Homo sapiens: one gene and its partner. The protein of the gene in region 2 interacts with the protein of the main gene of each other region in a pairwise test. Each region holds a gene or a part of one and is shown on either strand. Other genes may lie near its edges.

Region 1 (8,135 bases), on a different chromosome or scaffold from region 2:
TATGTTGCCCAGGCTGTTCTCAAACTCCTGGCCTCAAGCAATCCTCCCACCTCAGCCTCCCAAAGTGCTGAGATTACAACTGTGAGCCACCATGCCTAGCTGTGCATAAGCCTTATGCAGTTTGTAGAGGAGCCATCTGGGAAGAGCACTAGGCTGTGAGTAAATAGACCTGGGATTTAGCTCTAGTTCTGCTTTTAACACGTTGTGACCTTGGTCTATTTACTTCACTTCTCCAACCTCTTCTAGCTTCAAAATTATGTATATAATTTGCTTAAAATAATCAATATGAGAGTATGAATGACTGATCATATCCTAATGAATCTCTACAGGGTCAAGTTCTAGATACGACAATGAGTTCCTTTTAGAGGGGTTGGAGCAGGTCAGGGGAGGCTTCCTTCACATCACAAAATGACCTGGTGGGTCAGCTACAGATGGAGGGCAGTGGATAGGTCTTGGAGGAGCAGGAAATTTTTCTATCTTGAAGACCTCTTCATTTGTAATCTGACCTACTTCCTGGGATATAAACTGTCATTGATGAGATTATGTATATTTTCTTGTGATTCCAGACTTTATGGATACCTTGCATAATCTATAAACTAGTAGATAACTGTAAGAGAAGAAAAGCCAGGTTGCGGCTCCTAAATTCTGCCTGTTGTTAATGGAAGAAACTCTGCTACTGCTCTGAATTCTCCTTCCCCATCATCTTCCCATTTGAAGCATCGGTTTCACTGGTTTAACCCTAATTTCTCAATAACGGAAGCAAATATTGCAATGGGGAGAGTACAACCCCACCTTAAAACAAATACCCTAGAACCTGTGTCTTTCTAAGCTACACAAAACACGTCAGGATTTGGACTGCCTTTGGAATGCTGAGCCATTAACCCCCACTGACAGAAATCGGGGGGAGCACAAACTCTGAGTCTCATCTGATGACAGCTTAAAAGATCATGGGAGTGAGGCTAGAGAAACTTTTACACCATTAGTCCTGCCCTTGTACTATCTCCTGGCAACTGACCCCAGCAATTAATAGCCTAGGAATTACAATCCTACTTACTGTTGATGCCTAATTACTATATAGGACGATGATTATGCAGATCATTAAATGTTTGTCAAATTAAAAATTTTAAAGTTTTAATTTCAACACTAAATCCTCAGTGGGTTTAGATGTATACAGACTTCATAAAATCATATCACACGGTCTTCTTACAAGGTAAAAAACACAAAATACAACGGTGCTCTCAAGTGATACTTTTTTTGCGGGGGATGGGGGAAGGAGTTTCGCTTTTGTTGCCCAGGCTAGAATGCAATGGCGTGATCTCGGCTCACCGCAACCTCCACCTCCTGGGTTCAAGTGATTCTCCTACCTCAGCCTCCAGAAAGTCTGAGATTACAGGCATGCGCGACCACACCCGGCTAATTTTGTATTTTTAGTAGAGACGCGGTTTCTCTGTGTTGGTCAGGCTGGTCTCGAACTCCCAACCTCAGGTGATCCGCCCGCCTCGGCCTCCCAAAGTGCTGGGATTACAGGTGTGAGCCACCGCACGGGCAGATCACCTCAGGTCGGGAGTTCGAGACCAGCCTGACCAACACAGAGAAACCCCATCTCTACTAAAAATACAAAATTAGCCGGGCATGGTGGTGCATGCCTGTTATCCCAGCTACTCGGGAGGCTGAGGCAGGAGAATCGCTTGAACCCGGGAGGTGGAGGTTGTGGTGAGCCAAGATCACGCCATTGCACTCCAGCCTAGGCAACAAGAGCAAACTCCGTCCCAAAAAAAAAAAAAAAAAAAAAAAAGAAAGAAGTATACTTCTAATGTCCAAATAATACATAATATAGTCATTTTGAAAATCTGCACATCATAACAGGATTCCTCATAGCAGGATATTTTCATGCTCAGTCTTGTATTTCAGCACAAACTAAAGAGTTACACATCACAGTATGTCTGTAGTATCATGGGCTTCCCAGATATGGCTGGACTTCAGCAACAGTAGCCTTTTAAAAACAAATTCCATGGCCCCAATATCATTTAGTTACTTTTATTTAAACTTACCAGCAACTGAACACTATCTTTCCCTAAAAGATGAAGAATCTTGTAAATGCTTGCAAAGATTAAGGGATAAGTGTAACTCCTCAGTCTCTCTGTCCATTCCCAAGTCAAATAACCATAATTAGTAACATTAAGGAGTAAATGTCCAATAATATTGAAACCTATTTCCGTGTTTTTTTTTTTTTTAAGATGGGGTCTCACTCTCTTGCCCAGGCTGGTCTCAAACTTGGGCTCAAGTGGTCCTGCCTCTACAGGTGCACACCACTTCACCTGGCAAAATCTATTTTCATTTCCATTTATAAAACAATATTTTATTTTGTGGCAGTCTTAAAACAGCATTTTATACTGGATATTTGCATTAAAAATTCAATTGGCCAACTAAACTCTTAACTTCTTCAAGGCAGTAATGTGTTTTTTACTTTCTCTGTATCCTCCAAGTGCTAAGTACTGTGGGAATGTATGCTAACGGCTGTGTCAAGTATATTAACATAAAAGAAAGATACAGGAGAAATATTTGTATAAAATAATGGTATACTTTGATGAGTTAAAATTATTTGGGGAAAATACGGAAAACTGAAAATATGTATAGTAGTCCCCCCTTATCTGTGGTTTCTCTTTCCATGTTTCAGTTGCCCAGAGTCAACCACTGTCTGAAAATATGAAGATATTTTGAGAGAGACCACATAAAAGTTCACATAACTTTTATTATAGTATTGTGTTATACTTGTTATATTTTAATACTGTTAATCTCTTACTGTACCTAATTTGTATAAACTTTATCATAAGCGTGTGTGTATTTTTTACATATATAAAAACAATATATATAGAGTTTGGTACTGTCTACAGTTTCAAGCATCCACTAGGGATTTTGGAAACTATCTACTGAAGACGAGGGAGCAAGGGGGACTACTCTAAAAGAAACTGAGCACAATTTCCAAGATGAATACACACTCATAGTCTGGAAAAGAAACCACAAAGGATATTTGAAAACCATGTGATGTGAAACTTCAAGAGACTGCCAGTATTCATCTGGAACAAAACTTGTCTGCACTAAAAAGCAGTTTAATATTCGTAAAGCTATGGTAAACAAGAGCAGATAAATATTTTCTCCAAGAAGATCTGAAAAACAGAACAAAACAGGTAATAGTGGCACAAAAGTCAGGCAGTTCCACTTGCAAAACTTAAAATCTGCTGCTCTGGTTGGCTCCTTGTAAGGCACAGTAGTGACCTCTGGTCCCTCCACACCATTCTTAAAGCCAACTTGGTTGGTTATACAAGCACCACAGCGTCATCACTGGGTGACTGCCACTCTTTTAGTTTAACCAACTTTTCTTGCAACTTATTGTGTAAAGATAATATTAAAATAAATACAAAAAAAAAAGAGTGGGTTAACTAAGGCCTTAGGCTAATTAATTAGGTCATACTATGTGTGTATCTAATGAAAGAAACCAGCTAACAAATTACTAATTTGGGAAGCAGCCCTTTGTATATGTGCAATATAAAATGGTCCTCTGTACATATATATTGATGATTACTATTATATATGCCAGGCACTGTGTTAATTTCTTCACATGCATCTCACTTAATCCTCCAAACAATATTATGGGATAGGTATTATTAGCCCCATTTTACAGACGAGCAAATTGAGGCCCAGAAATTAAACTGCCTTGTCCAAATAAAGTTGTAAATTACTTATCAGGATTCAAACCCGGGTCTGTGTGATGTCTCCAAAGTCCTGCTCTTGACCACAAATGGACAGCCTGTCGGCCAAATACAGAGTATTTTTTAAAAAATTGAATTTAGTTGCCAACATTTAAAAATCAGAATTTATATTAAAATCTGTGTTTCCAGCATTTCCCAGCATTTCAAAACTCAAGATCTGGCAACACAGAGCTCAACGGGCAACTGGCTGGTAATGAAATGGAGGGGGTTCCTTTTAGATGGGGGTAGGAGCTCTCCAGACAGTGTCCCCTCACTCACCCCCGCGGCGCCTGGCGCTCTTCTCCTGGGTGTTGAAGTACAAGGTAGACTTTCTCTTTCGCAGCTTTATCTTGCCGTGGGAGCGGTTCTGGAGACCATGCAAAGTGAGGCTGGCATCTCCGCCCCCCGGCTCCATTCCGCACTTGCTTAGGGGCCTCCTCATCCCTGGCCGCCACCTTCCTAAGGCGGAAGAAAGCTGCAGTAGCGCGCTGCTCGTCCATCCATTAAGTTTGGCCTTTGAGAGCAGTCGTCGCTCGCAAGCCCGGAAGTAACCGGGAACGGGCAACTTCGTAGCTCCCACCCGACGTGGTGGCCTCCTTGCGGTTTCCTTTCGCCGTTTCCGAACCGAGGGATTGCTACTCGCCTTTGGCTTGGCGGTCTCTGTGCTCGGGGGTCCGAAAACTGCTGGAAGGCCCCCGGTCTCTGGAGGGGAGCAGGCGGTAGCGAGTTTAGTGACGTGGAGCAGGCGCAGAACAGTCGGAGGTACCTGAGTGGTTATTAAAAACGGTAACGGTAATTGTAGACGTCAGTGTTGGTGTTAACATTTCAGGTTCGTTGCTCTCACAAAAAATGCCTGTTCAACGAGGTAGGCAGGGTAGGGATGATTTAGCTTGTTGTACAGATGTGGAAACAGGCCGAATGGTTCCTATTTTTTTTGTTGTTGTTGCTGTTGTTAGGTTTTTTTTTTGTTTTTGTTTTTGTTTTTTTTTTTGAGACGGAGTTTCGCTCTTGTAGTCCAGGCTGGAGTGCAGTGGCGCAATCTGGGCTCACTGCAACTTCTGCCTCCCGGGTTCCAGTGATTTTCCTGCCTCAGCTCCCAAGTAGCTGGGACTACAGGCGCGCCACCACGCCTGGCCAATTTTTGTGTTTTTTTGTAGAGACGGGGTTTCACCATATTGGCCTGGCTGGTCTGGAACTCCTGACCTCGTGATCCGCCCGCCTCGGCCTCCCAAAGTGTTGGGATTACAGGCGTGAGCCACCGCGTGCGGCCCACTCCTCTTGTTAAAAGTAAAACCAGGCCGGGCGCGGTGGCTCACGCCTGTATTCCCAGTACTTTGGGAGGCCAAGACGGGCGGATCAGGAGGTCAGAGGATCGAGACCATCCTGGCTAACACGGTGAAACCCCGTCTCTACAAAAAATACAAAAAATTAGCCGGGTGTGGTGACACGCGCCTGTAGTCCCAGCTTCTCGGGAGGCTGAGGTAGGAGAATGGCGTTAACCGAGGAGGCGGAGCTTGCAGTGAGCCGAGATTGCGCCATTGCACTCCAGCCTGGGCGACAGAGCGAGACTCCGTCTCAAAAAAAAAAAAAAAAAGAAAAAGTATGCATTTAAAACCATTGAGAACATTCTGTAATAGAAAAGGTTTTAGTTTTGTCTTATACCCTTCCCTAATTCACTTCCTGTACTCCTTATGTATTTATATTCTTGTTTTAATTAGTAACATATTATAAAAATATTGTTCACTCCAGTGCAAAGTAGTGACATAACATCTTTTAAAAGGACATTGTACTAAGTGATGGCTTTGCTTTCCATTTTTGTATGCAGATTTGAAGAGATTTCCTGGGTGTGGAGTGTGACTTTCCAAAACCAGCTTTTCCTTGAGCTGTATTTGTTGCAGCAATGTTTAGGAGATTGACTTTTGCACAACTGCTTTTTGCCACTGTCCTTGGAATTGCTGGAGGAGTATATATTTTTCAACCAGTATTTGAACAGTATGCCAAAGATCAGAAGGAATTAAAAGAAAAGATGCAGTTGGTACAAGAATCAGAAGAGAAGAAAAGTTAATACTACATGGAGTTAGGCCTGGCGCAGTGGCTCACGCCTGTAATCCCAGCACTTTGGGAGGCCGAGGCGGGTGGATCAGGTGGTCAGGAGTTCAAGACCAGCCTGACCAACATGGTGAAACCCTGTCTCTACTGAAAATACAAAAATCAGCCAGGCTTGGTGGCATGCGCCTGTAATCCCAGCTACTTGGGAGGCTGAGGCAGGAGCATCACTTGAACCTGGGAGGCAGAGGTGGCAGTGAGTCAAGATCACGCTGCTGCACTCCAGCCTGGGTGACAGAGCGAGACTCCATCTAAAAAAACAAAAAGCAAAAAAACCCACAAATACCTCATGGAGATGAACTGTAATAATTGCTTAAAGTTCCATTTAATTATGTTAACTCTAATCTAGCAAAAACATAGATGTACTTAAAAATAAATCATGGATAATGATTTTTTAACCTAACACTGTTAATTTTAATGTTTATTGTATATTTGTCATTTTATGTCTTTTTACCAGGACAGATAAGTAATTTCCTTTTAAACAAAAGTGAATATTTTAGGAATATTTTCTACTTGAGGTTTATTTTTCTAGGAATTCAGCATATGCAGTATCATGGGGTGCCAGTCTCAGTGTGTATATAATAATTGGGAAGGGTGTTTGCAATAGTGTTTGTAGATATGTGAACCAACTTAAACTACCTCAGGCAGAAATCCACTCCGTTACCCTGCAGTTAGATTGGTTTAATATATTTTGGCAGTCATTCAATCCCAGCCGTTTTTCATCTCAGGCAGTGTGGAGGAGTAGTTGAGAGTTGGGATGGCTCAGATCAAATTGAGGTTTTAGAGAAGGTAGATGTTGTTTGAGAGGATGGCAGATATGACACAGATGTTTTTTAATCCACTAAGCAAATTTGCATTAATAATTGTGTTAAGGGAGTAGTTAATTTATTATGAAGCTATTATTCATATAGTTAAAATTTTTTTTGAAGTTACTAAGAATTGGTATTACTTTTTACTCTAGCGTTAAGTTTGTATTTTCTTTTTTTCTCCTTTTTTTTTTTAAGTTCTGGGATACATGTGCTGAACGTGCAGGTTTGTAACATAGATATACATGTGCCATGGTGTTTGCTGCACCTGTCAACCCGTCATCTAGGTTTTAAGCCCTGCAGGCATTAGGTATTTGTCCTAATGCTCTCCCTCCCCTTGCCCCCCACCCGCCCCCGACAGGCCCCAGTGTGTGATGTTCCCCTCCCTGTGTCCATGTATTCTCATTGTTCAGCTCTCACTTATGAGTGAGAACATGTGGTGTTTGGTTTTCTGTTCCTGTGTTAGTTAGTTTGCTGAGAATGATGGTTTCCAGCTTCATCCATGTCCCTACAAAGTACATAAATTCTTTTTTTTTTTTTTTTTTTGAGACGGAGTCTGGCTCTGTTGCCCAGGCTGGAGCGCAGTGGCGCAATATTGGTTTGCTGCAACCTCTGCCTCCGCCTCCCAGGTTCAAGCAGTTCTGCCTCAGCCTACGTAGTAGCTGGGACTACATGTGTGCACCACCACACCTAGCTAATGTTTGTATTTTTAGTAGAGATGGGGTTTCACCATTTTGGCCAGAATGGTTTCAATCTGCTGACCTCGTGATCCACCTGCTTCGGCCTCCCAAAGTGCTGGGATTATAGGCATGAGCCACCGCGCCTGGCCGTGCATGTGTCTTTATAGTAGAATGATTTGTAATCCTTTGGGTATATACCCAGTAATGGGATTGCTGGGTCAAATGGCATTTCTGGTTGTAGATCCTTGAGGAATTGCCACACTGTCTTCACAATGGTTGAACTAATTTACACTCCCACCAACAGTGTAAAAGCGTTCGTATTTCTCCACAGCCTCACCAGCATCTGTTGTTTCCTGACTTTTTAATGATCACCATTCTAACTGGCATGAGATGGTATCTCATTGTGGTTTTGATTTGCATTTCTCTAATGACAAGTGATGATGAGCTTTTTTTCATAAGTTTGTTGGCTGCGTAAATGTCTTCTTTTGAGAAGTGTCTGTTCATATCCTTCACTCACTTTTTGATGGGGTTGTTTTTTTCTTGTAAATTTGTTTAAGTCCCTTGTAGATTCTGGATATTAGCCCTTTGTCAGATGGATAGATTACGAAAATTTTCTCCCATTCTGTAGGTTGCCTGTTCACTCTCACGATAGTTTCTTTTGCTAGGCAGAAGCTCTTTAATTAGATCCCATTTGTCGATTTTGGCTTTTGTTGCAATTGCTTTTTGGTGGCCTTGTCATGAAGTCTTTGCCCGTGCCTATGTCCTGAATGGTATTGCCTAGGTTTTCTTCTAGA
Region 2 (8,377 bases):
ATTCCATTTAAACATTGTTTTTAACAGCTGTCTACCCTGTTCTGATTTTCCTAAAAGCTTCACACTATATAGGCTGGGCACAATGGCTCATGCCTGTAATCCCAGCACTTTGGGAGGCCGACAAGGGCGGGTCACTTGAGGTCAGGAGTTCGAGACCAGCCTGACCAACATGGTGAAACCCCATCTCTACTAAAAAATACAAAAATTAGCCAGGCATGGTGATGCACATCTGTAATCCTAGCTACTCGGGAGACTGAGGCAGGAGAATCTCTTGAACCTGGGAGGTGGAGGTTGCAGTGAGCCGAGATTGTACCACCTCACTCCAGCCTGGGTGACAGAGCAAAACTCTCAAAAAAAAGTAAAATTTCAAAAAAGCTTCACAATATAAACCTTAATTTTAATGACATATTGGCTAGTCAATAAACAAGTCTTATCTCATCTCATCTCTTTTCTGATAACAAACACCCGATGTGTTCAATTTGCTTTCATATTTAAGTCTTTCCTGAATTGCTGTCATCATTCAACAACAGTTGCATGTCGCCTTGCTAGCTGTCAAAGTAGACTTCATCCCCAAATGGATATCTGTAATGAAAGAATACAAAGGTGAAATTTTATTTAAAAATTTTTTAAAAGAATTTGGTTTTGGATTAAAAGGCATGCAAGCAGCATTAATTCCACTCACAGTTACAGTCTATCACCTGGGGCATTCACTACTTTTCAGAGTCAGATCACAGTTCAAAAGACAGCTCTCACCTTGGGGGCATATTCCCCAAGTCAGTGTGAACATGTCTTGTCCCAAGAGGACACTTTATACGCATGGATGTTCACAAATTTATTCTAAACTGCAGGTGTCTGTCAGGATTCATTTGTTAAACATGTCCTCTGTGTTAAAAATCCTAAAATCCTTTTGCATTTCTTAGAAAAAATCACGTTTCTGATGAAATTCTAAAGATGTTTGCAATATTAAACTAGAATATATTAACATGTATAATTTTGAGACAAGGTCTTGCTCTGTCACCCAGGCTGGAGTACAGTGGCTCGATCATAACTCACTGCCACCTCACGATCCTCTTGCCTCAGCCCTCCAAGTAGCTGGGACTACAGGCGTGTACCACCATGCCTGGCTAGTTTTATTTTTAGTACATAGCCTTGAACAACTGAGCTTAAGCGATCATCCTCCCTCAACCTTCCAAAGTGCTAGGACTGTAGGCATGAGCCACTGCACCTGGCCTAAAATTACATTGTTACAGGCACGTAAGTAACACTTCCTGGATCCAAAAATGTGTATTCTGCATTTCAACAACTGAACTTAAGCGATCATCCTCCCTCAACCTTCCAAAGTGCTAGGACTGTAGGCATGAGCCACTGCACCTGGCCTAAAATTACATTGTTACAGGCACGTAAGTAACACTTCCTGGATCCAAAAATGTGTATTCTGCATTTCAACAACTGAACTTAAGCGATCATCCTCCCTCAACCTTCCAAAGTGCTAGGACTGTAGGCATGAGCCACTGCACCTGGCCTAAAATTACATTGTTACAGGCACGTAAGTAACACTTCCTGGATCCAAAAATGTGTATTCTGCATTTCATATTAAAATAAAAAAGCAAGTGCTTGGGATACAAATATCTGCATGAAAATTTAAAGACTTTATTCCTGACTGGTATCACTTTTAGTAAGCAGTTGAACATAACTTGTAGTGTGAATATGGTTAAAACAAAGGACACCTGATGTCTGTGAAGTCTGCTAAGGACAGGTACAAAATTTATGCATTGCTTTTTAAAAAGTTTAAAATGAGGAATGCTTTTGATAATCAGAAAGACTAATGTAAAGTGCTGACTGATGTCCTGTCTGCAGTTAAGGAAGACACCCAACTCTCTTCTTCCTCATCATGGTATTCTCTATGTATAGATCTCTAAAAATGCAAACTTCCTATGGACAAGACAATATGATTTGCTATAATATGAATTAAGATATGGTAATATCTAATAGTCTCCACTGCTAGGATTCTGAGTAACACAAAAAATAGGTTTTATAAAAAGCCCATGCACTTCAATTGGTGGGGGAAAAGAATAAAGTCATTTTCAGTCGACTGACTCTGTAAAACAGATTACCAATATAACAAGCTATGTTATCTAAATTGCCCTGGCAGTCTTCAGTTTTCTCTAAGTAAACAAAGTAAAAGGAACAATAAGGATGCAGGCGTAGTAATAGCTGTGGAAAAGATGAAACTACAGCCACAGTGACCTGTGGGCAGCCTGCGTAGAGATAAGCTGAGGTGTCAGTCAGACTGATCCTGGTAACGATACTCCATGGCTGCATGAAGATGCTGGAGGCATCAAGTGGGTGGCCTTAACTCTAGTGGATTCACTAGGCAATGTAAATTGGTTAGTGGGTTCCCGTAAGTGCCTGTAACAATAAAATTTCTTTTTCAATGTCCCCAATTCAAACTGGCCTCCTTAACTATCCAGAATCAGTGATGCCTGTCATCTGTTCATCTTAAAATAAACACTTCTTACTTTATGGGATGTAAATATCAAAGAGAAGATGAAATGAAAAGCTTTTACATATATAACGTGTTTGTTAATTCTAATTGTCAGTAAAAATGTGAATGTTGAAGTTGAAATGTGAATGTTGAAGTTGGCACCTTTGTAGTAATCAGAATTCTTGCAGAGAAGAGAAAGAGAGTGAAGAGTATACTTTACAAAGCTCGAAGGAGACTTGAGGCTGTCGTTTGTGCTGGTGTTCCTCTAGCCACAGGGGCTGCTGACCGGATCCTGTCCACGTGGTCCAGCCACACCTCTTGCGGGGCTGTATGTGCTGCCTTGGTCTGGGCTGCCTGCGGCTTCAGACTTGAGCTGGGCCTTTTCCGCTGCGGGTGAACCTTCTGTATTCCCTGATGTGTCTTGGCCAGAGACAGGCTTGGCCGACTGGCTGCTTTCAGTACTGCTTTCTTTCGGTGTGCCTTCCCCCAGGATTCCACCTGTCTCCTTGGGCTTTGTATCCAAAACAGGTGATTTATGCTATAAAGTACAAAATTACATTTTAACTGTTTAATGTAATGTGAAGTCTTAGTAATCAAACATATCTAAAAAGTTCCCACCCAAATCCGTTGTAGCAAGCTCCAAACTCTTTCAAATCCAGGGTCCAGTGCTGGGTTATAATTATATAAATGTTATTATACCTCACCAAACTCCACAGTACTCCCACAGAGGAGTGGGAACGCTTAGCGCATATACTGGGTGGTCTAGTGGCCCAGCTTAGAAGGGGTCAAGAGAATTGGTCATCAGTATTGTCAACTTCTCTTGCCTGGTGAGAATAATTCATTTGACAAATATTTCTTGAGCATATATTAAGTTCTAGGTGTTAGGGATACAGCAGGAACAAAATACATAAAACTGTTCTCACTGGAACTTATATTTAGGTTAGAAGAAAATCACACAAGTGTGATATGTTGAATTAAAGAGGCTATGTAAAAAAAGCAGAGAAGAGATGAGTGCTGAATGTGGGTGGGCTGGCAGGGTCAAATTACAGTTTAAATTAGGGTGGTCTGAAAAAGTGATATGGTTAGGCATGGTGGCTCACACCTGTAATCCCATAACTTTGGGAGGCCAAGGTGAGAAGACTGCTTGAGGCCAGGAGTTTGAGACCAGCCTGGGTAACAGCAAGACCCCATATCCACAAAAAATAAAAAATATTAGCCAGGCATGGTCGTATATGCCTATAGTCCTAGTTACTCAGAAGGCTGAGGCAAAAGAATCGGTTGAGCCCAGGATTTTGAGGCTGCAATGAGCTATGATCACTGCACCCCAGCCTTGACCACAGAGTGAGACCTTGTCTCCAAAAATAATAAAAATGAGTAAAGGCCTGAAGAAAGTAACCATATGATTGATATATAAATGAAGACTGTAGAATGAACAGCAGGTACAAAGGCTCTCAAGTTCAAGGAACAGTCAGGAGCCCTTATGGCTAAAGTAGAGTAAGCACGGAGGGAGAAGAGGTGACCAGAGAGGTAGTGGATGTGGGGGAAGGGGAGACCAAGGAGGCTTCCAGGCCATTGTAATACTGGCTTTCCCCTCAAGTGAGATAGGAAGTCACTGGAAGACTTCTGAGATAGGTGACAGGTAATTACTAACTATAAAAGCTGGAAGGACCATCTTAAGTTGTTTTTTTTTTTTTTTTTTTTTTTTTGAGACGACGTCTCACTCTGTCACCCAGGCTGGAGTGCAATGGCACGATCTCGGCTCACTGCAACCTCCGCCCCCTGGAATCAAGCAATTCTCCTGTCTCAGCCTCCCAAGTAGCTGGGATTACAGGTGCATACCACATCACGCCTGGCTAATTTTCTTGTATTTTCAGTAGAGATGGGGCTTTGCCACGTTGGCCAGGCTGGTCTTGAACTGCAGACCTCCAGTGATCCGCCTGCCTCGGCCTCCCAGTGCTGGGATCACAGGCGTGAGCCGCCGCGCCTGGTCCATCTTTCTAGATACATGTAGATATGTTTATTTTTATATGAAACTATGGGAAGGGATTCTATAATTTCCCAGATTCTATTATGCTCATAACTGTTTCAAAGGTTTAACAGCTGCAATTTAAACATTTCAAATGACAATACAAATTCCTCTCTCAAACAGAAATGGAAATGTCCCTTTAAAAGACTGATAATGGTGAAAAACTTCTTCTTACCATTCTACAGGTAAAAAGTATAGTCTAGCCAGCCAATGACACTGAAGATTTGGGGAAGCAATGTTTTTGATCCCTGGCCCCAGCCCACTCTTCCATCCAGCTAATCCTTTAGGGCTCTACTGTACCTTCCCTAGAGCTCCGGGCCTTCAGTGATGCCTTCTCTCTGATCTCTTCAAAGATAGAAATTTCTGTCATGCTCATACGCTGGCTTCCCATGAAGGTTCATATGAATTACCATCTGCTCTAACAAACTACTGTTAAATTGTATTTTACATAAAAGTTAAATCTAATTTTATTTCTTCTGAGGAAGCTGAACTAACTTTTGACCAGAAAGGGGAGAGAGTGAGTGGCTGTATCACTCATGATATAATTAAGGGTGAGGGGTAAAAGAGTAAAAACAATCAGACCTCTTCCAGAAGGATTTAGAACCAGTAATGAAGGGACAGCAGAATAAAAGAGTTGCTGACTTACACTGGGTACCACCGTGGGATGCTCTCGTGCCTCTGCGTCTGGTACATCAAATGCCCGGAGCACTTCAGGGCTCTTGTTGCCAGTCTGAAATCTCAAGTCAACATCTCTCTCTCTCAAAATCTCTCTTCTACCCTCATACGTTTTGGCATAAGGGCCTTGCTCAGTGGGGCCCATTTGGCCCCTATAATGGAAATCGGCATCACCTGCTCCACCATCAGGTCTATAATCAATTTCCTCCTGCCGTCTTCTATCCCGTGGCCGAAGTGCCTGGGGAGGTTCGCTCTCAGGACCGCCTATATGTCTCAGCACATGAACTGATTTTCCAGCACCATAGCAGAAACTCTGTAAGGAAAAGAAATACATTTTCCTGAGGACTCAATGGCTAACTTACAAAAGTTATGAGGCATTTTATTCAGAGTGCTAACAAAGTTATGTAATTTAACTTACTTGTGGCATTTATAGACATAAACATGTTAATTTGACTTTTTTTCATTAGAGACCTCTTTAGATTAATACAAGGCCAGAGTGGCCAATAAAACTTAATAAATCTTTCAGTAGACATTTTAATCAGCTAGACACATTTCGATTGAACTATAACAATGGCAGGCTGAAGCCTAGATATTTAAATTAGAAGGTTCTAGTCTGATAATTATTCATGTTTCTAGATTCATGCCCATCATATAAGGTAAATGCTGAAAATATTTAAAGTTGTATATCATTATGTAAACAATCTTCTGTACATTTTCTTTTTACAAATATAAACTAGGCTTAAGTTACAGCTAAAATTCAACAGGTTTTGATTCACATTCCATGGGAAAAAGTAGGCAGCAGTTCCTTACAGTGTGGCCCAGGGACCCCCGGGGGATACCTGAGACTTTCAGGAGATCTATGAGATCAAAACTTTTCATAATACAAAGACATTATTATTTGTCTTTTTCACTGTCCCCTCCTGAATATACAACGGAGCATTCCAGATGCTAGAGTGACAGCCTCACTCAGACTCAGGGGATGCATGCTTGCGTGTACAGTACTCGTATGTTTTAAATTTGTTTTAACTCCTAATATGTAAGTATCAATAAATATAATCACCTTAAGTAAGAGCTGTTTGTGGGCTTCAATTTTTAAGACTGCAAAGAGGTCCTGAGAACAGAAACTTTGAAAATTTCTGTACTAGTTTTTCAAACACTACTATTTGAAGACAAAAGCAGCAAAAGTCAAAGAGCATAACTTTCCTGAGGGAGCACATGAAACAAAAACAGATGGTGAAGACTCTGCTGATAATTTCAGTTTCAGAGACTAAACTATGACTATAGAACTAATGTCACCTAACAAAAAAATACCCGTCAACCACATAATCCTGTAATCACAAGCCAAAAAACAAAACCAAAAAAGAAACGATTTCAAAGTGAACAGAGATAGTGAATCTTGTATCCTTAGGGAAGAGAATTTCCCTTGGCACATCTGAGTTCTTTTTGTTTTATGCGACAACTGCTTTACTTGGGTAATAGCTAAAAAATCGATAACAAAAAACACTGAATAGACCATGGAGGGATGACGAGTAATATTTCTTCTTAATGTCTGCTCCTGGATCCCCAAACTCTTTCTCAGCATACCCATGTTCTTCCACATCCCTTTCTGGTTCTGTGTCAAACTCAATGCTCTACCCTTCTCACTGCTGCAAAAACTGACTAGAAATAAGAAGTCCCCCTTTCTGGGAGACAGAAATCAACTTCCTATTTCCTGTGTATTAATTTACCAAGGTTAACACATTTAAAAAGAGGTTATTATTCTAAATCACTGCTATGACATATGCAATCAAACTAGAGAACTACTTTCTTGATTATAAAAATATACAAGTAAGTATAATATGTCTGTATCATTTAGAGGGGCAGAGGGGAGGAAAAAAATCTGTATCACTTAAAAATCGCCTTCTCATTAAGCGTGACTTAGCCTGATTTACAACATCAAAGAAGCCCAATAATTTTAGCATTGCCTTTTTTTCTGTAAATCTTGCTAAATATTGACAGTGCTAATATTTAATACTAACCAGTATTACTAATATTAATACTAAGATTTAATATAAATCTTGCTAAATACTGACAGTGCATATATATATATAAATATAAATATATAATATATAAATATATATTATATATAATAAATATATAAATATAGACAGATATATAAATATAAATATATATAGATAGATATATAAATATACATATATGTATAATTTTTTTTTTTTTTTGAGACGGAATCTTGCTCTGTCGCCCAGGCTGGAGTACAGTGGTGCGATCTCGGCTCACTGCAAGCTCCGCCTCCCAGGTTCACCCCGTTCTCCTGCCTCAGCCTCCCGAGTAGCTGGGACTACAGGCGCCCGCCACCACGCCCGGCTAATTTTTTGTATTTTTTTTAGTAGAGACAGGGTTTCACTGTGTTAGCCAGGATGGTCTCGATCTCCTGACCTCGTGATCCGCCCGCCTAGGCCTCCCAAAGTGCTGGGATTACAGGCGTGAGCCACCGCGCCTGGCCCGACAGTGCTAATATATTAATACTAACCAGGATGGCTAATGCCATAATTATCAGCACTGGAAGATGAAGCAGCGCTGGAATTTCCTTCATGAGTGCTTTAATAAATTCCCCAGTTCCTTTTCCAATATGCTTCAATGGCTCCGTTACAAATGTGGTGAATGTAACTGCAAGTGCCTAAAACGAGAGAAAAGCAACTTAATTTTCTCCTCACAGGACTAAGGTACAGAATGCATCAAAATTCATTGAGTACTGATGCTGAAAGTATGTTACATAAATTAAAATGCTGTTGTGCCATTTTTAATGTGAAAATCACTGTGCAAAAGTATTTTTTCTTGGACAAACGCTTATTAGCAAAATGACTCAAACACTAAAGTTCTTTAAAATACAAGGGATTTCTGACTGACTTTAAGTAATTTTTACAAAATATATGCTATACCTTTGTTGGTGGGACCAACCAAATAGGGTTGACTAGTAAGAGCTCATAGTATTTTTGGCATGGGTCATCCTTATAGGTCCATGAACTTCTAAACCATTCTGTTTAGAGAAACAGACAAAACACTGATCATTTCTTTTAATGTTGCATTTCATTCCCAAACAAGACATTACTTTGGTTTTGACCCTCCCTGACCACCCACCAATGAGTTTTAAATTATCTTAAGTTTTAAGTAGACTCCCTGTAATGCTGATT

Evidence for each region.
Region 1: the proteins of CLCC1 (region 2) and PIGBOS1 interact in binary tests that used the Homo sapiens proteins (3 or more experiments, as listed by UniProt).

The regions. Positions count from the first base shown.
Region 1 is NC_000015.10:55,315,307-55,323,441, reverse strand, and holds PIGBOS1 (protein PIGBOS1), read left to right. Parts: upstream 1-4,318; 5' UTR 4,319-4,578; exon of another isoform or gene 4,579-4,614; intron 4,615-5,574; 5' UTR 5,575-5,649; coding exon 5,650-5,814; 3' UTR 5,815-6,258; downstream 6,259-8,135. Other genes in the region: PIGB (GPI alpha-1,2-mannosyltransferase 3), read right to left, coding at 2,052-2,169, 3,032-3,167, 4,029-4,191. UniProt on the Homo sapiens protein: Plays a role in regulation of the unfolded protein response triggered by endoplasmic reticulum (ER) stress resulting from the presence of unfolded proteins in the ER lumen.
Region 2 is NC_000001.11:108,931,920-108,940,296, forward strand, and holds part of CLCC1 (chloride channel CLIC-like protein 1 isoform 1 precursor), read right to left. Parts: intron 8,224-8,377; coding exon 8,126-8,223; intron 7,864-8,125; coding exon 7,717-7,863; intron 6,390-7,716; exon of another isoform or gene 6,247-6,389; intron 5,500-6,246; coding exon 5,158-5,499; intron 3,024-5,157; coding exon 2,751-3,023; 3' UTR 2,706-2,750; exon of another isoform or gene 2,701-2,705; intron 2,627-2,700; exon of another isoform or gene 583-2,626; 3' UTR 1-582. UniProt on the Homo sapiens protein: Anion-selective channel with Ca(2+)-dependent and voltage-independent gating. Permeable to small monovalent anions with selectivity for bromide > chloride > nitrate > fluoride.